2 separate regions of the Homo sapiens genome follow, and region 1 is linked to region 2. The links come from fine-mapping of genetic effects on gene expression. Tissue or cell type: whole blood. Region 2 holds a variant in brackets; the other region holds the start of a gene. All regions are shown on one strand. Distances are between the middles of the regions.

Evidence for each region. PIP is the estimated chance that this variant, and not a neighbour inherited with it, causes the effect.
Region 1: it holds the start of ZC3H13, and the variant in region 2 is fine-mapped to the expression of ZC3H13 in whole blood (INTERVAL, PIP 0.99).

What each region holds. Positions count from the first base shown.
Region 1 is chr13:46,047,910-46,057,207 of GRCh38, forward strand. ZC3H13 (zinc finger CCCH-type containing 13) reads right to left here and starts at 4,837. Exons shown (of 19, transcript NM_001330564.2): 1 at 4,495-4,837. CPB2 (carboxypeptidase B2) reads right to left here. Exons shown (of 11, transcript NM_001872.5): 10 at 7,853-7,940; 11 at 5,277-5,889. The coding sequence ends at 5,705. It overlaps CPB2-AS1 (CPB2 antisense RNA 1), which reads left to right and starts at 4,939. Exons shown (of 3, transcript NR_046227.1): 1 at 4,939-5,056. RefSeq lists enhancers at 4,021-4,557, 4,558-5,093, 4,623-4,792, 4,803-5,002.
Region 2 is chr13:45,969,948-45,980,632 of GRCh38, forward strand. It overlaps ZC3H13 (zinc finger CCCH-type containing 13), which reads right to left. Exons shown (of 19, transcript NM_001330564.2): 11 at 9,866-10,057; 12 at 5,336-5,891; 13 at 415-518; 14 at 1-24. Among named protein-coding and RNA genes, the nearest start is that of ZC3H13, 77 kb to the right of the region's middle. The variant T/C (reference allele first, on the strand shown) is at 6,361.

The sequences.
Region 1 (9,298 bases), 77 kb after region 2:
CCACACTGCCTCAAGTGGACTAACACTAATTTTTTATTTTTCCCTCCACTGTCACTGGAAATGAGTTAGTTCTGCCCCCAACATCTCTACTACCCCCAACATGCCTCCACTCCCAGCTCAGTCTCCTTCAAAAAATTCAATGGTAATGGTTTCCAGTTAGGACGACAGGCTATTTATTATCGTACTTATTATACTTAAAACATTGGTCATCTATCATCTCCTTTCTTTTTACTTTTTGAGGGTTCCAGGTATTAACTCTACAGTTTCTTTTTCTGGTCTGTCCTCTGTTGCCTGATTCGCACTACTCTCCTCCCTTGACCTATTGCTTTGCTGGTCTGAGAGCTTCTCTCCAATCCTAGACTCCCTAAGGCAAACTTTGAAGATTTCGCCGGGCGCGGTGGCTCACGCCTGTAATCCCAGCACTTTGGGAGGCCGAGGCGGGCGGATCACGAAGTCAGGAGATCGAGACCATGCTGGCTAACATGGTGAAACCCTGTCTCTACTAAAAATACAAAAACAAAATTAGCCGGGCGTGGTGGCAGGCGCCTGTAGTCCCAGCTACTCGGGAGGCTGAGGCGGGAGAATGGCGTGAACCCGGGAGGCGGAGCTTGCAGTGAGCCGAGATTGCGCCACTGCACTCCAGCCTGGGTGACAGAGTGAGACTCCGCCTCAAAAAAAAAAAAAAAAAAAAAAAAACTTTGAAGATTTCAAGGGTTGGACTTGCTATGAAAGACAATCAAGTGAAGACTAATGATCCACCTCCTCACCTCCCTCACCCTACGCCCATATTCTTTCCACAGAGACAAAATTGCTTTTACCAGTGACATCAAGAACTATTCAAGATTCACCTACATAGTAATTATCCCAGGAATTTCACTTGCAGCTACTACTGTACTGAGTCTCCCAATTTAGCGAAGAAATGAAATTAAGTAAAAATGTGGCCAAGCGCAGTGACTCACGCCTGTAATCCCAGCACTTTGGGAGGCCAAGGCAGGCGGATCACGAGGTCAAGAGATTGAGACCATCCTGGCCAACAGATCGAGACCATCCTGGCCAACATGGTGAAACCCCGTCTCTACTAAAAATACAAAAATTAGCTGGGTGTGGCGGTGCACGCCTGTAATCCCAGCTACTCGGGAAGCTGAGGCAGGAGAATCGCTTGAACCCGGGAGGTGGAGGTTGCAGTGAGCCGAGATCGCGCCACTGCACTCCAACCTGGCAACAGAGGGAGACTCCGTCTCAAAAAAAAAAAAAAAAAAGATGTACTCTACTTTTTCTCAGACTCCAAGAGTACCATACTTTGTCCTAAAGTAATACAGCATCTGAGTATGCGGTCTGGGTTACAGCAAGGTCCTGGACTGAACATTTAAAACAAGAATAATGACAACAATAATACACACACACATATTCTTAATAAAATGTTCTTTAATGTGATATATATATGTGTGTGTGTAAAACGTCTGGTGAAAAAAGAAAAAAGCAGAAACTGAAGATTTCTAACTGAAAAAATTCTTCTGATCATCCATGTAAAAACTTCCACAAGTAGTCAACAATAAAATGTTACTTAAATATTACTAATGAGACATTCATGAATTTGAATAAACAAAATGCTTCATGCTTGTAAAGAACACAATATATAACTTTAAAAATCCCATTTATCTAAAAATATACACACTATCTACAATACAGCAGAAAAACATTTCCTTTTTCATATATTAAAACTAAATGTTACCAACTAATGTGACAATTAGAATTTTCAATCCTATTTAAAACTTTGGGCCCGTAAAGGAAAATGAACACCACAACAGTTAAAATGTAGATTTTCGGGGCGGGAAACTTTTTCAAATTATGTATGAACAGGCTGAACATGACAAGTAAATGCTTCAAAGTATATGAGAAAAATTAGAAACCATAAGATAAAAATGTAAATACTAAAGTCTTTCCTATCATAGAGAATAGAAATCAAGGTCATACCAATAACTTACTAATTTACTCTTCTATGAAGGTTTTCCTCCATTTTTGTTTTCAAATTATTATTTGGTTTAAGTTGCCATCACACTTCCACCCACATCATCAAGTCTTTCTCAAACACGAGCATTATCAAAGACAGAGTGGCACTAGTGAAAGCCTATTTCGTTATTTTCCTATTTCTCCTCTCCATTTGCAGAGCAAATGAATATCTGAAGTCTTTATAATCTCTTTTCAATTAAAAAAGAAAATGGAAAAAGAAAAAGAAAATCCGGGACACAAAGTTTGAGTCTATTAATAAAGACACAACAAAAGAGGGTCTTAAATGGGAACTGCTCCCTTGCCCCGAGAAACTTAGAATAACACTGTACTCAGAAGGTTCACATTATAATTATGGCTGAGAAAGGAGAAGCATACAAAAGGGTCTCTTTTTGAATAATGACTCCAGAAGCTCAATTAATAAAATCTTGTCAATAAACACATATGCGTTCTAGTATCTTCACTTCAATCCATAATTAATTATCTTTTCCAGGTCTCATCTACTGGAAGCATAAGTGAAAGCATAACACTTTAATCCGGATGAGTAGCGGCATAATATTAGGGAAATTTCAAACAATTAGGCAATTAAAACTACATGAATGTACTAACTAGTAGGATAAATCCCTATACTCTGAATTTCTAAGATTAAAAAGGTGATACTAAAAATAAGGTATCTTCACATTTATACTTCATATTTTTAGAAAGAAAAATTAACTTTATTTGATGCATAGTTTGAGAGAATTTTTTAAAAAGAACTTTCTAAAACAAACTTTCAGATTGCTTCCGTAAATTTAATGCTAAAACAATTCCAAACTAAATTCCAAATACAACTGACAGAACTAAGCTGACTACATAGGAATTAGCAAAGCAACACTGCAGTACTATGCAGAAAAAACAATTTGTTAAAAAGACTGTGCACAGAAAACATCCCATGCTGGTAGCTACTCTAAAGTGAAGTAAAAAGAACTGCATCATACAAAAATACAAAAAAAAAAGAATAAAAGACTCTTTCTATATCAACAGCAGTTAATGCTTCAACTACTACTAACAGCTGGAGAAATAGCTCCACCTCTATATGAGATGGAGTTGGGAGAGATGAGGAGGTGAGGAAGACTATCATCCACTGAAAACCAACTCTCTAAGTAAATTTAAGTTAAACAATGTGTTTCCTCTATGTAAATGCCAATGCATATTATAAATACTGATGATATTACAATTTTAATAATTTGTAAAGATGTTAAGATACCATCCACTTGCTGGATTTTTAGTATGTTAAATTCATATTACAAATATGAAAATCACATAAGCTTGCAAATCTCAAAATATGCAATGTTCATTTAGAATGACCAGTAATCAGGAAGCCAGTAAGAGGCATACATTTGATAAAACTGAATCCTACCAGATGCACAGAGTGAAAGCCTTAGTTTCAGAGTGCAACTATTTTTAAAGCCGCAATTGTTACAAGCTTGCATCAACTTTGCTAGTCTCTAGTTGAAACTGTCATCTGTTATAATCTAAATAGTTCATTAAGAAAATAAAAATTATTTGAAAATCTATAGATTGTATTCACAAAACGCTCCAATATATTGTACTAAAGCCAGTAATTTCAAATGTTACAGAACTAGACCCCGCTAACTGGCACCATATACCCATAGACTGAACTGCATAAGTATTTATTCTCCAACGGTATCGCGGACTTCGAAAACTTGAGGTGTAAAGATGTTTTCCAAATTTTTAAAACTACTTTAAAAATCCAAAAATCTTAAGAGACTTCATACTCCCATAATTTTCAAAGTAGTTCGAATTACCTGAAAGCCCCATAGTATAACCAAATACCTTAAGACTACCCTTCACAAACAACATCTTACCAACATAATTCAAGTATTATCAACTCTAAATAATTTTCAAACCACATAAATTGCGTTAGCCTATTACAGAGAGATAATGCCGCCAAACAGACTCTCTTCTTTCTATTCCACTTTCCCCCGTTTCTGACAGTTGCCAAAACTACCTACCTAAGGCTTGTGAAGATAAAGTAGCACTCAATTCCCAGGACCTAAATCGTTATCACTGCTGAGGGAAAAAAAAAAAAACAAGACCAATCACAAGTAAGATGTTTTTCTCTAACAGATCTGGAATGAGTATAGAGGAAGATTCTAAATTTAAGCCCAAATTGCTGCACCCTTCCATCGCACACAAATACGAACACCATACAAGGGTTCCCGTGCTTACATCAAATGGTAACGAGGGGTACAGCCTATTGTCTGAGTCTACTTATCGCCCTTAGACAAATGCCAGAATCATAATCAGAGTGAGAAATTACGCCTGAGCACAGGGGGCTATTGCAGAGTTAAGGGTGGGATGCTCAAGGAAAGCTCAAAATCCCAGTGACTCAAGCAAAGACGGGGGGGGGTAACCCGGGCCTCCGCATTACGGGTCCGCTCAATGCCTTCCCCAGATACCCACACCAATTCACAGAACGCTTACTTCCTCCCCAAGCTCCCTTCGCAAGTGCAGTCCGGAGGCACCACCGCCGCCGCCGCTCCGAGGAGCGGGGGAGGCGACTCTGTCCCCGCGCCTGGACCCAGGAGGACGACGACGAGGAGAAAGCGATGCGCGCGCGGCTCCCGGGAACCGGCTCTTGGCTAGCGAGGAGCCCCCGGGATGGCTGAGAAGCAGAACCAACCCGCCCGCCGCCTCTCCAGGGTCAAGCGAAACTGGGTCGCAGGAAGAAAAATAACGAAGAGATTGTAGATTAAGAAAAGGCAACAAAAACACTACCAGGCCGCTAGGAGGACCGCCTCAAAATGCCGCCGGAAGTCAGAGGTTTGCCCTGTTCCTCTGTAGACCCAGGCAGCTTCCGGCCGTCAGATTAGTCGTCAGTGCGCAGACACCACCCTTCGTGGACACGCCCTCTAGGCGTAAGGTTCCATGCGAGCGGTAAGAGTGCGGCGGGACTTGGAAATCGAATCTGTGCTCTGTGAGAGATCCTAGGAAAGGAAACTGGGAGCCCGGGAGAACTAAAATTCCCAATTAAAAGTGAATTTAAGTGAGTTTTCTCTTTTTATTACATAATTCCTTACCATAAACAGCTGTTGTAAATGCGCAAAATGCGGCATTTGTTGACAGTACCTAGAGCCACTCATTCATTCGTTCAACAGTGTTTATTGAGCAGCTGAGCTGGAATGAGAGGCTATGTTTGTCGTTTTTGACACCCCTCCCCTTTCTGGGCCATCGCCTAATTACCGTGGAGCAAACGGAATGCATGGTTGTATTTCTAAAGGCACAAGCAGAAATTTATTGAAAATTTGGAGCAGAAATCTTTAATGTACTTCTGACCACCCTTCCTTTTGTTGAGTAGGATCCAATGATCAGCGTGAGATGATCATTGATTAAACTTGCTTGAGATGGCTAGTCAAACGTCGAAACTTGCTTGAGATGGCTAGTCAAACGTCGAAAATCAAAGAAAAAGTAGGTAACTAGACTTTTACAATTTTTTTTAAAGGGTAAAAAGACATGAACCCTAGTCTGCCTTAATGGCAAAGTAGCACTTATTAGGTTCTCTGACAGAACCAAGGAATAGGAAAATCTTTTATCAAAACTACGGATAAAACTTAAAAATAATTTGATACAATGATTTGGTCTTGCTGGAATCAGTAAATTAAAATACGGAAGCAGAATGATAAAATCAGGGGCATTAAACATTCCTAATGACATGCCAAGCTATTTTAGAGACAGCGGCAAAAGCTTCTCTACAGGTGGGTTTGATGTAACGCTCCGGCAGCAAGAATCCGTATGTGCCCGTATCTCGAAGTTCAATTGTAAACGAATATTTGATGCCCAAATCATAGATCCAATCGTCCCCACCTCCAGGAGCTAGGTCTAAAAGAAGAAGAAAGAAATTGTTGAAATACAGACGTTTCAAATTAATTTACAAACTGGGAATTGTTTGATTTAAATGTTTATTTGTTTGTATACCTTTAGATTTTTTTCAGTTTTTAACTAATATAAACAACTTTACAATGAGTACCCTTGTTTATACATAATTGCTTCTTTGTCTCTTTAGAATATTCTTCCCTAGAATAGATTTGCTAGTCTAAGGCTCTGTACTTTTTGCAATTACGGCATGTTCCCAAATGGACGTCAAAAGAACTGAATTCATTTATACTTCCACAAGCAGGGTATGAATTTGCCCATTTCCCCTTCCCATACCATCAATAGGAATTATGAATTCTGATAATTTTATGGGCGAAAAATAATATCCAACTGTCTTAATTTATGTTTTTTGATTATCAGTGAGTTGCACATTTGTTTGGCATATTTATTGGCTATCTTTATATTTCCTATCAATTGTCCTTCCTCATTTGTCTACTTGGTTCATTTTATCAATTGCTTATAAAAACGACATTAGTGTTATTAGCTTTGTTTGGCATGTAGACCTTTTTTTCTCCTTTCATTCATTTCTCCTTTCACAAGAATTTTTTCTCCTTACTGAGATTTCAACTTGGTTTATGCAGGGTTTTCATATGAAAATATATGCTGTACCTGGAATTTACTTTGGTGAAAGACATGTTAATAATCCAATTAATTTTTTTCTAGGTAACTTGTTAGGTTTTCCAACCGCATTAATTGAATAATCTGACTTTTTTTGGGGGGGTGCTAAATTGAGTCCAGGTTTATGGCAAAGTCTGACCCAAAATTTTAATTTATAATTTTAGCATCTATCTAATACAGTTTGGGAAGCATCTCATGAAAGCTACAATTGCCAGAAGACTTGTTACAGTTTAATGCATGTTAACTAAAATGTGTACATATTTTAGTGTTCATGATAAATACAGTTTCGACCTTTTTTGAGATGGAGTCTCACTCTGTCACCCAGGCTAGAGTGCAGTTGCACAATCTCAGCTCATTGCCACCCCCACCTCCCAGGTTCAAGTAATTCTTATGCATTAGCCAACCAAGTAGCTGGCATTACAGGCGCCTGCCACCATGCCCAGCTAATTTTTGTATTTTTAGTAGAGACAGGGTTTCACCATGTTGGCCAGTCTGGTCTCGAACTCCTGACCTCAAGTGATCCTCCTGCCTCAGCCTCCCAAAGTGCTGGTATTACAGGCATGAGCCACAGCACCTGGCCTCTTTTTGTTTTTTTCTAATCATTAAAAAAAAAAAAAAAAGGAAAAACCTGGATTTGGCCTTCAGGCTGTAGTTTTCTGATGCCTGGTTACAGGTTTATTTTATGCTCCTCTTTTCCCATCTCCCTTCAAACTTCAAAAGGGCAAAATCAGTCTGTCCTCCCACTGTGTGTAGATAGGAGTTACTCACTAAATATCTTTCAGCAAAAATTAATCAAAACTTTTTGTTAAGAGTTTGTCACAAGTTTTGTGTGTGTAATATATATTAAAGACAATCAACTGTAATGTGTTATGAGCTATACTCTTGGGAACAGGCTAACACTAAAAAACACTTGATGCAAATGGCATGCCCTAGATTAGTGTAGTGTACAACCTGCACAACCTTCCATGGTGGCCCTGGGAATCATGCAAAAGTTTTATGAACTTTTCTGCTTCACTCAACTAGTATGATGCCAATTCTGTAATTCCTACTTGATTGTGATAAATATGATTTCTTAAATAGGATTTTGGCTTCTTTTTAGTAACTCATTTATTAATATAGCTTTGTTCAGCATTGTCATAGCTATTATGCTTCTGTTCCTAATTATTACAATTCAGTTGTATTACATGTGACCCTATTTAATTCAGAAAAATTAAATACACAAAGAAAAACAGATCACACAGATTTCTTTAGTAGCTCAAAGTTCTCTAAGATCATAAGAAGAAATACTTACATAAGGTTTCTGAGCCATGGCCATGTGTATACCTGGTATTTTTACTAATTTTCTCAATAGCACGAACTGCTTCACTGGCTACTAGAGACTGGAAGCAACAAGATATAGAATTTCAGTTAATGTGCAGCTTTGAAACATGACAAGTAGAAGTTTCTAAAAAATAATCATACATTAATTGAATCAAAGTATACAGGTAGAAAATCTAGATTCATCTAAAAGGCAAATAAATAAGGTAAACAAATTAATTTAAAATATGTGCACTTTATGGCAATCACAATTGGGTGGCTTTAAACATAAACTATTTCAATATATTGAAATAATTTATATAAATAAATATATTAATTTGCAGAAAAAAATTATCACATGCCTTTTTGGGAACTCATTTATTATGGAAAATGAAGTATAACTACATCTCAAAGGCTTAGAGGTACTCCATTTCTGAACAAAATTATCACCAAACTTTAAATCCAACCTTTCTAAACACATACAAACACCTAATGCATGCATGACTCACTTCTTATCCTTCTCACAACTTCTATTTTCTTCTTGTGTAAAATGTCTAATGACTTCCATAGATTCATCAAATCAAAAAAGATTATGCCTCTGGTATGGAGCAGGATAATAACTAAGACCCCCATTTGACTTCATTTTGTCTGTTGATATTCATTTTGTCAAATCTATTCTGAAGTTCTCACTTATCTGGAACTTTTCGGAAATTGGAACTAGCATCATGGTATACACTGTCACCTTCTTGAAAAACTCAAGAGATTTATCAGCGGATATTATTTTATGCCATCTCATTGTTCAAAAAATAAGTTTTAATGTAACCCCATTGTCTACATAATGAAATACAAATTTATCTGACAGTCACACCCCTTCAGAAGCCAACCTAATCTACTTTCTGATGCTATCACCCTCCACTTTTGCATCCTCTTATGGTGAACACCAACTTCTTTGCTTGGAAGGTCCTTCCTTCCCTGTCTGCCTATAGAAATCCTCTTTCAATGCCTGTCTAAAATGTAGCTGATCTTTGACATCAACAGCACTTTATTATTTGTAGTTTTTCCCCCCCTTAATAGATTGTAAATTCCTCAAGGACAGTAACTACTTTATCTCCTCACTTATCTCAGCATTTCCCTCTGAATGCATTAGTGAAGCCATCCCTTGATATTCTAGTTAGAAGTGAGTTGTACTGTCTGTGCCACGTATTTAGTAGTTACTCTATGTCGCCTTAGAGTACAACTATTTGTAACATTTGCTAATGGTTGAGCTCCCTAACCATAACACATTCTCTTAAAGGGCAGGATTTTACCTAATGCTTCTTTAAACATCCATTGACAAGGTATTTTACACGTAATGGCTCTCAACATATATGTGTGCTGGCAGTGATGCAAAAAAAAAAAAGCATAATTAGACTAATTCTACTTCCCAAATCATGATAAATTT
Region 2 (10,685 bases):
GGCTCAAGAGTCTGTGTTTTTCATCTATATAAAAGATAAAAGCAATCACACTCTCACCAGGTTAGTAACCACTGCATGGTACATATAGATTATAATAATTTCTCCTCACACCTGTAATCCCAGGACTTTGGGAGGCCGAGGCAGGTGGATCATGAGATCAAGAGATCAAGATCATTTAAAAACTTTTAAAATGACAATAATTTTAGTAAAAATAAAAATATGGCTTTACTATAAATAGTAGAAAATGACAGTACTCTAACACATACTTTAGTCACAAAAGGAGATATTTAGAGGCAGCAAAGCAAGACAACTTTTTAAAAATCTTAATTCATCAGTTCCTACTAGTATGAAAGGATGGTTTCATGGTTACAAATGAATATGAATATAGAGAGACAGAAAACAGAGTCTGCTTACTTTTATCATCTCCACTGTTGTAGGCATCACTGTCCGGAGAATGTTCACGCCGGCGCTTCGGGGACTGTCTAGGGCTGGGACTCCCTTCATTTCTATAGCGCTTCCTAAATTGGACAAGCAAACACAATTTATAAAATTCTAGGGGGCAAAAAAAGAGATTTTTTTGTTTTTACTAGTATCTCTTTACTATAACTGGAACATATAATTGTAGGAAAGCAATATTGCCAGAGTGTATCATACAAAGGATATTCAGTGTCTTTAATACAAATTCTTTACTTCATTTGCTAAGAATTGTGAACTTAAAATACACAACATTTCTTCTTCTTCTTCATTATACATGTAGAATAACTCAAGTGAAAATTGCCAGATTTAAATACTGTAAGGTGGTAACATGCAGCACAGAAACCAATATATTAATGTACCCTCTGATATAAACATTCAGCAATTTTGCATTCTTATGATATAAAAATGCCTTATGCTGCAGAGCTGAATGAGAAAACCTAATATTGGCTTTGAAGTAAAAAAGCTATGAGTTCAACTTATAACTACATTAGTTATTACGCAGCCTTAAGTAAGTTCCTTGAAGTCACTGAACCTTAGTTTCTCATCTGAAAATGGTGGGTGGGGCTGAATGGGTGGGAAATGAGAGTCCATTTCATAAAATTGCAGTAAGGAATAAATTAGTTATGTCATAAACCCAGTGCCAAATATGTTGTGGGTACACCATAAAATTAGTTCCTTTCCCCTTCATGGAAATCACTTTCTTGCTGACAAATTAATAAAATAATTCATACGTTCATTATATTTTTTGTTCCTTAGTTGAGCTTTAAATGAGTAGCGTTTTATATCTCTTGGGTACTTAAATTATTCTAGTGTTTTCCCCCATTTTCATTAAAATTTGACTACCTGTTTTTTCACTAACATTGTTTGTTTATAAATACTATGGTCAAAAGTTAAGAAACATATTGTATACATGGACCAATGGAACAGAATAGAAAACCCAGAAATAAAGCCAAATGATCTTCAGCAAAAGCATACAAAACATAACTGGGGAAAGGACACTCTATTTACTAAATGGTGGTGGGAAAATTGGCAAGTCACATGTAAAAGAATGAAACCGGATCCCTCTCAGCTCAAACAAAAATCAGCTCAAGAAGGATCAAAGACTTAAATCTAAAACCTGAAACCATTAAAATTCTAGAAATTAACACTGGGAAAACTCTTTTGGACACTGGCCTAGGCAAAGACTTCATGGCCAAGATTCTAAAAGCAAACGCAACGAAACCAAAAATAAATAAATGGAACCTAATTAAACTAAAAAGCTTCTGCACAGCAAAATAAATAACAAAGACAACCCATAGAATGGGAGAAAATGTTTGCAAACTATGTATCCAACAAAGGACTAGTATCCAGAATCTATAAGAAACTCAAATAAATCAGCAAGAAAAACATAAATAATCCCATCAAAAAGTGGATAAAGGACACGAATAGACATTTCTCAAAAGAAGACATACAAACAGCCAACAAACGTATGAAAAAATGCTCAAAATCACTAATCATCAGGGAAATACAAATTAAAAACCACAATGAGATGCCACCTTACTCCTACAAAAATGGCCATTAAAAAGTAAAAAAAACAGGAGATGTTAGCATAGACATGGTGAAAAGGGAATGCTTATTCACTGCTGGTGGGTATGTAAATAAGTACAACCTCTATGAAAAACAGTATGGAGAGTCCCTAAAGAACTAAAAGGAGATATTTGATCCAGCAATCCCACTACTGGGTATCTACCCAAAGGAAAAGAAGTCATTATATGAAAAAAAAAAACATGCACATATATGTTTATAGCAGCAAAATTCACAACTGTAAAGATATAGAACCAACCTAAGTGCCCATTGGCCAATGGGTGGATAAAGAAAATGTGGTATATATACACCATGAAACCATGGACTACTACTCAGCCATAAAAAGGAAAAAAATAATGTCTTTTGCAGCAACTTGTTCTCACCTGTAAGTGAGAGCTAAGCTATGAGTATGCAAAGGCATACAGAGTGATATAATGGGCTTTGGAGACTCAGAAGGGGGAGGGTGGAAGGGGAGTGAGGGATAAAAACGTACATGTTTGGTACAATGTGGACTACTCAGGTGACAGGTGCACTAAAATCTCTGAATTCATCCAGGTAACCAAAAACCTCTTGTACCCTAAAAGCTATTGAAATAAAAATAAAACAAAAACATACCAGCACATGTATATCATAGACAGCTCCTTTATATAGATGAACAACCATGTGGAGAAGGCCCCAGGTGTAATATGACAACTCACAGGCCCAAGCTTGTGTACTACTTTATCCAAAGCTCCTCTCCCATCAATAACTGGCCTATTTCCCCATTTTTCATATCTAATGACTTGCTATGACAAGAGAATGTGGTGAAAGTGACACTGTGCAAATGTGAAGAGGATTCAGGAGGCCTTGCTGCTTCAGCTTCTGCCCTCTTGTTGTTTCTACCATTACATGCAAAGCAGAGTTTAGACTACTGAAGGCCAGGGGGTCAAGTGGAGGAGAAACAAGATGCCCTAATTGCCAGACACATGAATGAGACAATCCTGGGCCTCCAGGCCCAGCTGCATTGTCAGATGTAATGTTGATACAGGAGTTACTCCAAGTGAGACCAACAGAACAACCACTCTATTGAGCCCAGGCAAAACTGCCAATCCACAGAATCATGAGCAAATAAATGGTTGTTGTTTTAAGCTACTAACTTATGTGGTGATGTGTTATATATCAAGAGATAACTGACAGACTGGAATAAAGTGAAAATTTAAAACATGAGAAAAAGTTATTTCAAGGAAATACCTAAATAAACACAATTAGAGTAAAATAAATACAGCAATTAGGCAAACGTTCTACATAAGAGCAGTTAAAAAAAGTGCTGGATAAATTGAACTACTGAGATGACAATACAGTTAATGAAAGATTAAGATATTAATCTCATGTAATTAGTTTCTGTTATAGAGTTATTCAACTTCTAAATTTCTGGGGTCATTGTCAACTCTTAGATTGTCTAACCATGAAAAACCAGAAAAACTTTTGCTATTATAAGCAGATATCAGAAGCATGAAAAAAATACAGGTTGCGTATCCCTTATCCATGAAATGCTTTAGGTTTTGAATATTTGCATTGTACTTACTGGTTGTGCATCCTTCATGTGAAAATCTGAAATGTTCCAATGAGCATTTCCTCTGAGTGCCATGTCAGTGTTTAAAAAACATTAGATTTTGGAGCATTTCAAATTCTGAATTTTTGGATTTGGGATGCTCAATCTGTACTAATGAAAGCAGAGGACTGAATAAAAGATAAATAACAAAGATTTCAGAATTTTAATCTTAGAAAATAAAGAGGTCAGAAAAGTAGCGGGTGGGGAGGGTGGGAATATGTACCTGTGCCTCCATGTGTTAAAAAAGGTATCTCTGAAGTTTATGTTCAGGTAAGATTTTTCAAAATGTAAGGAGAGGGAAGCAGGAAAGTAATCCAAGGAGTGTACTACAGAAAACCATGGCTGTAGATTAAAGAACAGCCAAGACCTAAGGGAAGAAAGTTCTACTTCTGTGCTGTGTTGTTTGGCCCTAACCATAATCCACAATAGTGAGGATGAAAAAAGCCTAAAGCAGGGACCCTGTATTCGCCCTGTGGCAAATGAGTTGGAGGTAAGAGCAAGAAAATTGAAGATACATAAATTATTTTCTCAGTATGTTTTGGCAAGGTAAACCACAGTGTTTATCCCAGTTGGAGGCAAAAAAGTAGTTAACTCTAGTAAGTTTGGTTTTGTGCCCACAGAACTTCAAAATTGACCAATCTGAGTCTAGAATTCTCATGAACACTGTGATCAGCTTAGTCAATAACTGTCTCCTCACCAACTAATGAGAGCCCCAACTCAGAGAGGACTGCTAAGCTGACAGGGACAACTCTGGGGCCATCTTAGCCATCATATGGAGAAAACCTTTCTGAGACTGAAATTAATACAGAGGGAAACTGGAGAGATGGAAACTGCTAATGCTTTGTTTGAGAATCTGGATATAGCCACATCAGAACAAGCAAAAGCTAATCTCCAACTTCCTAGATATTTGAGCAATAAGTTCTTTTCTGGTTAAAAGGGGGTGAGGTGGGAGAATGCCCTTAGGTATATCAGATGCCAAGAACACATTTTTTGACCCCAAAGAACTACTCCACAGCACAAGAGAAGACACTTCCTTTTCTCTCATCTTCGAACCATGCAGTGATTACAAGGATTCCCTCAGTTCCAAGACATTGTGAATGCTTCCTGTAGCCTGGGGGTAGTGACTCCATAATTACAAGCACATAAAAGTCATGAAGGATCATCAGAATGGCACAGGTGATATCCCTTGGTGACTAGTCTAGGGGATGTGATGGGATACAAGTTCACTGATTCCTGTCTTAATTTAAAAATTATTTTTTCTAGACAACTGAAAAAACTTTTTTTTTTTTTCCTGAGACAAGGTCTCGACCCAGGCTGGAGTGCAATGACATAATCTTGGCTCACTGCAACCTCTGCCTCTCAGGTTCAAACAATCCTCCCATCTCAGCCTCCCAAGTAGCTGGGATACAGGCACGTGCCACCACGTCCGGCTAATTTTTGTATTTTCTGTAGAGATGGAGTTTTGCCATGTTGCCCAGGCTGGTCTCAAACTCCTGGCCTGAAGGAATCTGCCTGCCTCGGCCTCCCAAAGTGCTGGGTAAAAAAACTTTAAACACCGATACATATACTAAATTTGAAAAACAGGAAAATATACAGAGAAAAAAAATTAACAGGAAATTAAGAGTATATTGAAAAGCATTAAATGAAACTTTGAATTCTTTCCTGAAATGTAAAATGTTATTAATAACTGATAATTATTCTTACTTTGATTTTCTTTCATCATGTCCATCTCTTGGATTCCTATCTTCTCGGATCTCTTCTCGCTTTTCTCTGCGGTCATCTCGTCCTTTGTCTTTGTCTTCCCAATCCCTTTGGCGTTCTCGTTCTTTATCCCTTTCTCTCGCTCTTTCTCGTTCCCGTTCTCGCTCTCGCTCTCTCTCCCGTTCTCGCTCTCTCTCCCTCTCTCTCTCTTCTCTTTCTCGTTCCCGTTCTTTTTCCCTGTCTCGTTCCCTCTCTCTTTCCCGCTCTCGATCGTGGTCTCGGTCTCTATCCCTTTCACGATCTCTCTCTTTTTCTCTTTCTCTCTCCCGTTCCCTAGCACGCTCTCTTTCTAGTTCTCTCTCTTTTTCTCTTTCCCGATCCCGTTCACGTTCCCTCTCTCTCTCCCGCTCCCTGTCTCGTTCTCGTTCCCGATCTCTCTCTCTAGCCCTTTCATCTCTCCTATCATCCACTCTGTCTACTCTTCGTTCCTCTCTTCTTTCATCACGCTCAAGCTCGTCATTCCTTCCCTGATGTCGAATTGGTGAGCTTGGTCTTTGATCTACAATGAAAATCAAGTTTTGTCAGTGATTAATTTGACAGATAACCTATTGGTAAGACAGCATGGTAAATCTTAAATTTTATCTGTGATAGGGTCACACTGGCAACAAATTACAAACCAAGTAGCATATTTAATTTTAACTTAATATCCAAGTAACAATCGCCCCTAGACCTTAAATTTTTTAAAGATAATTTTTATTTGCCCTCTAACGACCATGTTTCCTGCTCCCCGTCAACCCCCTTCCCCCCTCCCACTGATCAATCTTTGATCTTTCTCTGCATGCTCCCTACCCTACCTCCAGCCCACTGCTCCAACCCCACTTTCTGCCATCTCTACCCTTCACCTCTGATCTTCTCTGTCCCCCCAGCAGGACCTGAGAACACTGGTGGCAAAGGATAGGGGCAGCAGGAGGTGTAGAACATAGGAGCTGAAGGAAAAAAAAAATTTCCCTCGTAAGTCACACCTCTAA[T/C]TTCAGGCCAAAATATATACACATCAAAGTGCAGCTATTATGTGAGGAAAATATAGTAGAACAAAACATATGTCAGAATTTGTTGCTGCAATATAACATGAACTGTAATATTAAGGGTACTGATGTCTAGCAATCTTGAAATAAATGTAAAAAGTGTTTCATATTAGTGATATATATTTGTAATTAATAACCAATTACTAATAAATTAGCTTTAATTACATAAATGATTACTCAGATGAAGAGCTGTTTTCTTAAAATGTTAACTGATAACCTCATCACATTTTATATAAATTTTTTCCATGTACACACAAATCACATAAACACAGAGTAAATGAATGCATGCTGCCCAAATACCCAGTTGAGCAGAAAATTAGTCTGGGATAAAAAAACGTTTAAGAGGATGGCATGAACTTTTTCAAAGAGACAGCCATTTTTGAAAGCAACTACTGCGGTCTGATCTAGGATACTGTGATGTTTCCATTTACATACTATATATCTACTGGTTTTTGATAAAGATCATATTATAATCAGGCCAACAGGTTGGTAAGTGGAACATCTAACATCAACTCATTAAGCAGAACAATTTTAGGATGTTTCTAGGAAGGGTTCAATACAGTATTCTGGATTTCCCTTCCTAATCACTGATTGAAAAGACAAGAATTATCTTATCTTTACTATTTTAGAGGTTATAGACCCAGATACAAATGATCATAGCATTTTAAAGCTGAATCAAAATGAAATCCTACACAGTTGCTTCTCCCCCTTTCTATTTAAAAACAGAAATTATGGTCCAGAGTTGTCTTCCCAATGTCACAGAGATGGTAGATGCATTAGAAGTCAGTTTTCTTAAACCCTTTCACTTTTGCTGAAACCAACTTAAAGTGGTTCTTCTGTACCATACTTTGGATTCCTAGAATGCTATCTACCCATCTTTTGTATTGTCTGAATTCCTGGTTTGGAGGAGTCATACCAACATCATAATCATTACAAGATAACCTGAAACAAATTCAATACCATTAACTTATAGCAAATCATACTTTAAATTTCTAATTACAGCAATATCAGCAAATAGACTATTCAGACATGCTTTTATGGGAGATGTATTTTCCCAACCAAAATATCAATGCTACTTTCTTCAAAGGAAAATGGAAAGAATATAAGAACATCACTTTAAAATGTCTAAATTATCTTCCCCTATCTTTCCCCCAAAATGTGTTATTCAAAGATGTGCTTCTACTTACATATTTCCTTATTTTAATAAATGACATACCAATTCATTAAAGCTGACAATCTCTGGGTTGTCTAAGCCTCATCATATCCAAGTACAATCAACTTCACTTCTAAAATATTTCTTTGTTCCTTTTCCTGTCCCCATAGCTATAGTTATTAACTCAGACCTTGATCAGGTCTTCTTAGATGCCTATGTCATCAACAGTCTAACTAATTGGTATCCTTGTTTTCAATCTTTCCCAACACCCTTAATATGTTTTTGATGAAAATTATTTCTTCCAACTGTTTAAAAGTAGTTATCTTGTAGGCAGTGAAAGGCAATTAAAATCAAATTTTTTAGCCTGACTAGGCTAAACTTAGGTCATTTACTACCTGGCCTATAGTCTTTCATCAGTCCTTTTCCCTGGTTTCTTTTCTACCTTGCCAATTATAGCATACTCTGACTCCAATCTCATAATTCCTTACTACTCCAAAGCACATGTTTCTTTCAGTTCTGGTGTCTGTACATGCTGCACCCTCTCCCTGTAAAGTGCTCCTTCTATAGTTTCCTTTTATTCTTCAGGCCCTAATTCAGATGTCACTTCTTTAGGCAGCTTTCTTGGAATTGCTCAGAATTGTGTTTGCTCCTTTGTCTTCTCACAGAACTTTTATATACAGTAGTAGCATTTTATCACACTTTGTTTTTTTGGGTGGGGAGTTCTTCCCTCTCCCCATTAAATTCTACAAGGACAAGAAATTATTGTACCTCAAGTGCCTAGCAAAGTGCCTGACATGGGTACTCAACAAATATTTGTAAAATATTCATTAGCCTCCAAAATATATTTTTATTTCAATCATACATCTCATAATTATTGAAGTAGTTACAGTAAAATTAAAATAGAGAACTGAACTTCTGGTCAGAAGACCTGAGTTTGAATTCCAGCTCTGGAACCTACTTCTCTATAATATTGTAATCTTACTACTCTTAGATCTAATCCCCAAAACTGTGAAAACATGAATTATTTTATCATACCTACACTTACAAGGATATTGTAAAGACTAAGTCAGAATATATGTAAAGCAACTATCAAAGTTCTTGGCACCTAGTAGAAGATCAATACATGTGGTTGAACTAACCATAAGATTGAAACCAAATGTTACTATTGAATTCAGGCATGAGATGAGAAAAATCTGAGCAAGGATATGAAAATAGAAAAAAAGGAAAAAAGAAATTTAAAAAAAAGCATCACCAGTTCTAAAAGTCCCAGGGAAGAAAAAATTTCAGATATCAACACAGAACATAGAAACTCCAGCCCTATCTGTAACTAAGGAAATTCTACACATCTTTTAACCAAAATGCATTAGGCTTACCTTATAAACTCAACCTAATCAATTCTCCTACTTCTGATCCTATCTATGCTCCCAAAAGTAGATGATGCCTTAGAAACTTTATTCTTCTCCCACTACTAACCAATCAAGATATAATATTACCTCTTTGATTCAGCCCATAGTAAAGTATCAATATTCAATTCTCTGGGCCATCAAGTTTCATGCTATATTAATCTCAGCATTATAGTGAACCTTACTTCAGCCAAGGTTAGTAAGACCTTCATAAAATTTTTAATGTTTAAAGGCCCTAATAAGTACAGAAATAAAAGCTTGCCAAAGAAAGTATTTACAACCCTTCTTAAGTGCTTCCTAGTAATCTTGCTTCAAAATTCATTTAAGAGATCACCTGATAGATGAACAGAAAAAGTTTTAGCTTAAGACATATAAGAACGTAAAATTAGCTAAAGCAAATACCATATCTTCTCAGGACAGAATACAAATAAAATATTTCTCTAAACAATCCCCAGCCCTATCATTCAGTTTTTTTTTACTGTTCCTTTCTGGAAGTCCTTATAAAATTCTATTGATCATAGCAAATGAGTGAGTAGACAGGATACTCAGATGTAAAGGTTTAGGTATTTCTTGAATCAGAATTGCCTGGAATAGAACCCAACCATCTACATTCTTTAAAGGTTTGTAAGCTATTTGGGTAAGATGAGAAACACACAGTAGGGCACCCAAGTTTTTGCACTTTGTTGCCAGTAGGTACTGGTCACTAGCTATTGACATAATCCCTCCTAAACCATGTGAACAAAGATTATATGAGTATATATAATAGTTTCAAATGTGTCATCGAGCACAAGCCTTAAAGTATATTTTATATTAAAAAGTAAATTGGTAACTGTTTGAAAAAACAATTCGCCCAATTGATATTGTTCACTATTTAATAAAATTCTGTTTGACAAACCTCTCTCTCTGTTGTCACGACGGTCTCGCTCTCCATGTCTTCTCTCAAAGGAAGAATCCCTTGCTTGATCTCTGTTGTCTCTTTCAGGATATCTATCTCTTTCAGGATAGCTACTTCGAGTTTCCCAGCTGTCATGATAGTTGCTATTACTACTGTGACTATCAATTTGAGAACCTCTTGAGCCTCGACTTCCTAAACAAAGGATAGACACACAAATGTTTACCACATACACTTTATTCAACAAATTTCATCAGTCATAATCTTTCCTCCTAAACATCACTAATATATATATTTAATATTCCAAAGTGTGGTAATCACTCCTGAAAAGAGTATCAAGCAATGAATCAGAACAACCAAGGTGTCCAATGACTGACCTGAGTAGACGAAGTCCCAGTTTTCCCTACCTATATAAAAGTCATATGATAAAATCATAAAATAATAAGATTCATTAAAATTAACCTGTCCCCCCAAAAAAAACAAAAAATAAAAACTATTTCTTCATATTTAATTCACAGATATATAAAAATAATGAAAGAAAAAAATGGGTACGTATTATTGCTTAAATACAGTTTACAGTGAAAACATTCCAACATAGAACACCAAGGTTAATGACAACATTAAACTGTATGTGAAAATTTTCATTAACAGATGTGGGAAACAAATGTTCACAGTGGCTTTGTTGATAACAGCCAAAACCTGCAAAGTACACTAATGTCTTTCAATGGATGAACAGTTAAACAAACTGTGGCACATGCATGCCATGGAATACTATTCGGCAATAAAAATGAATGACCGATATATGCAACAACTTGGATGAACC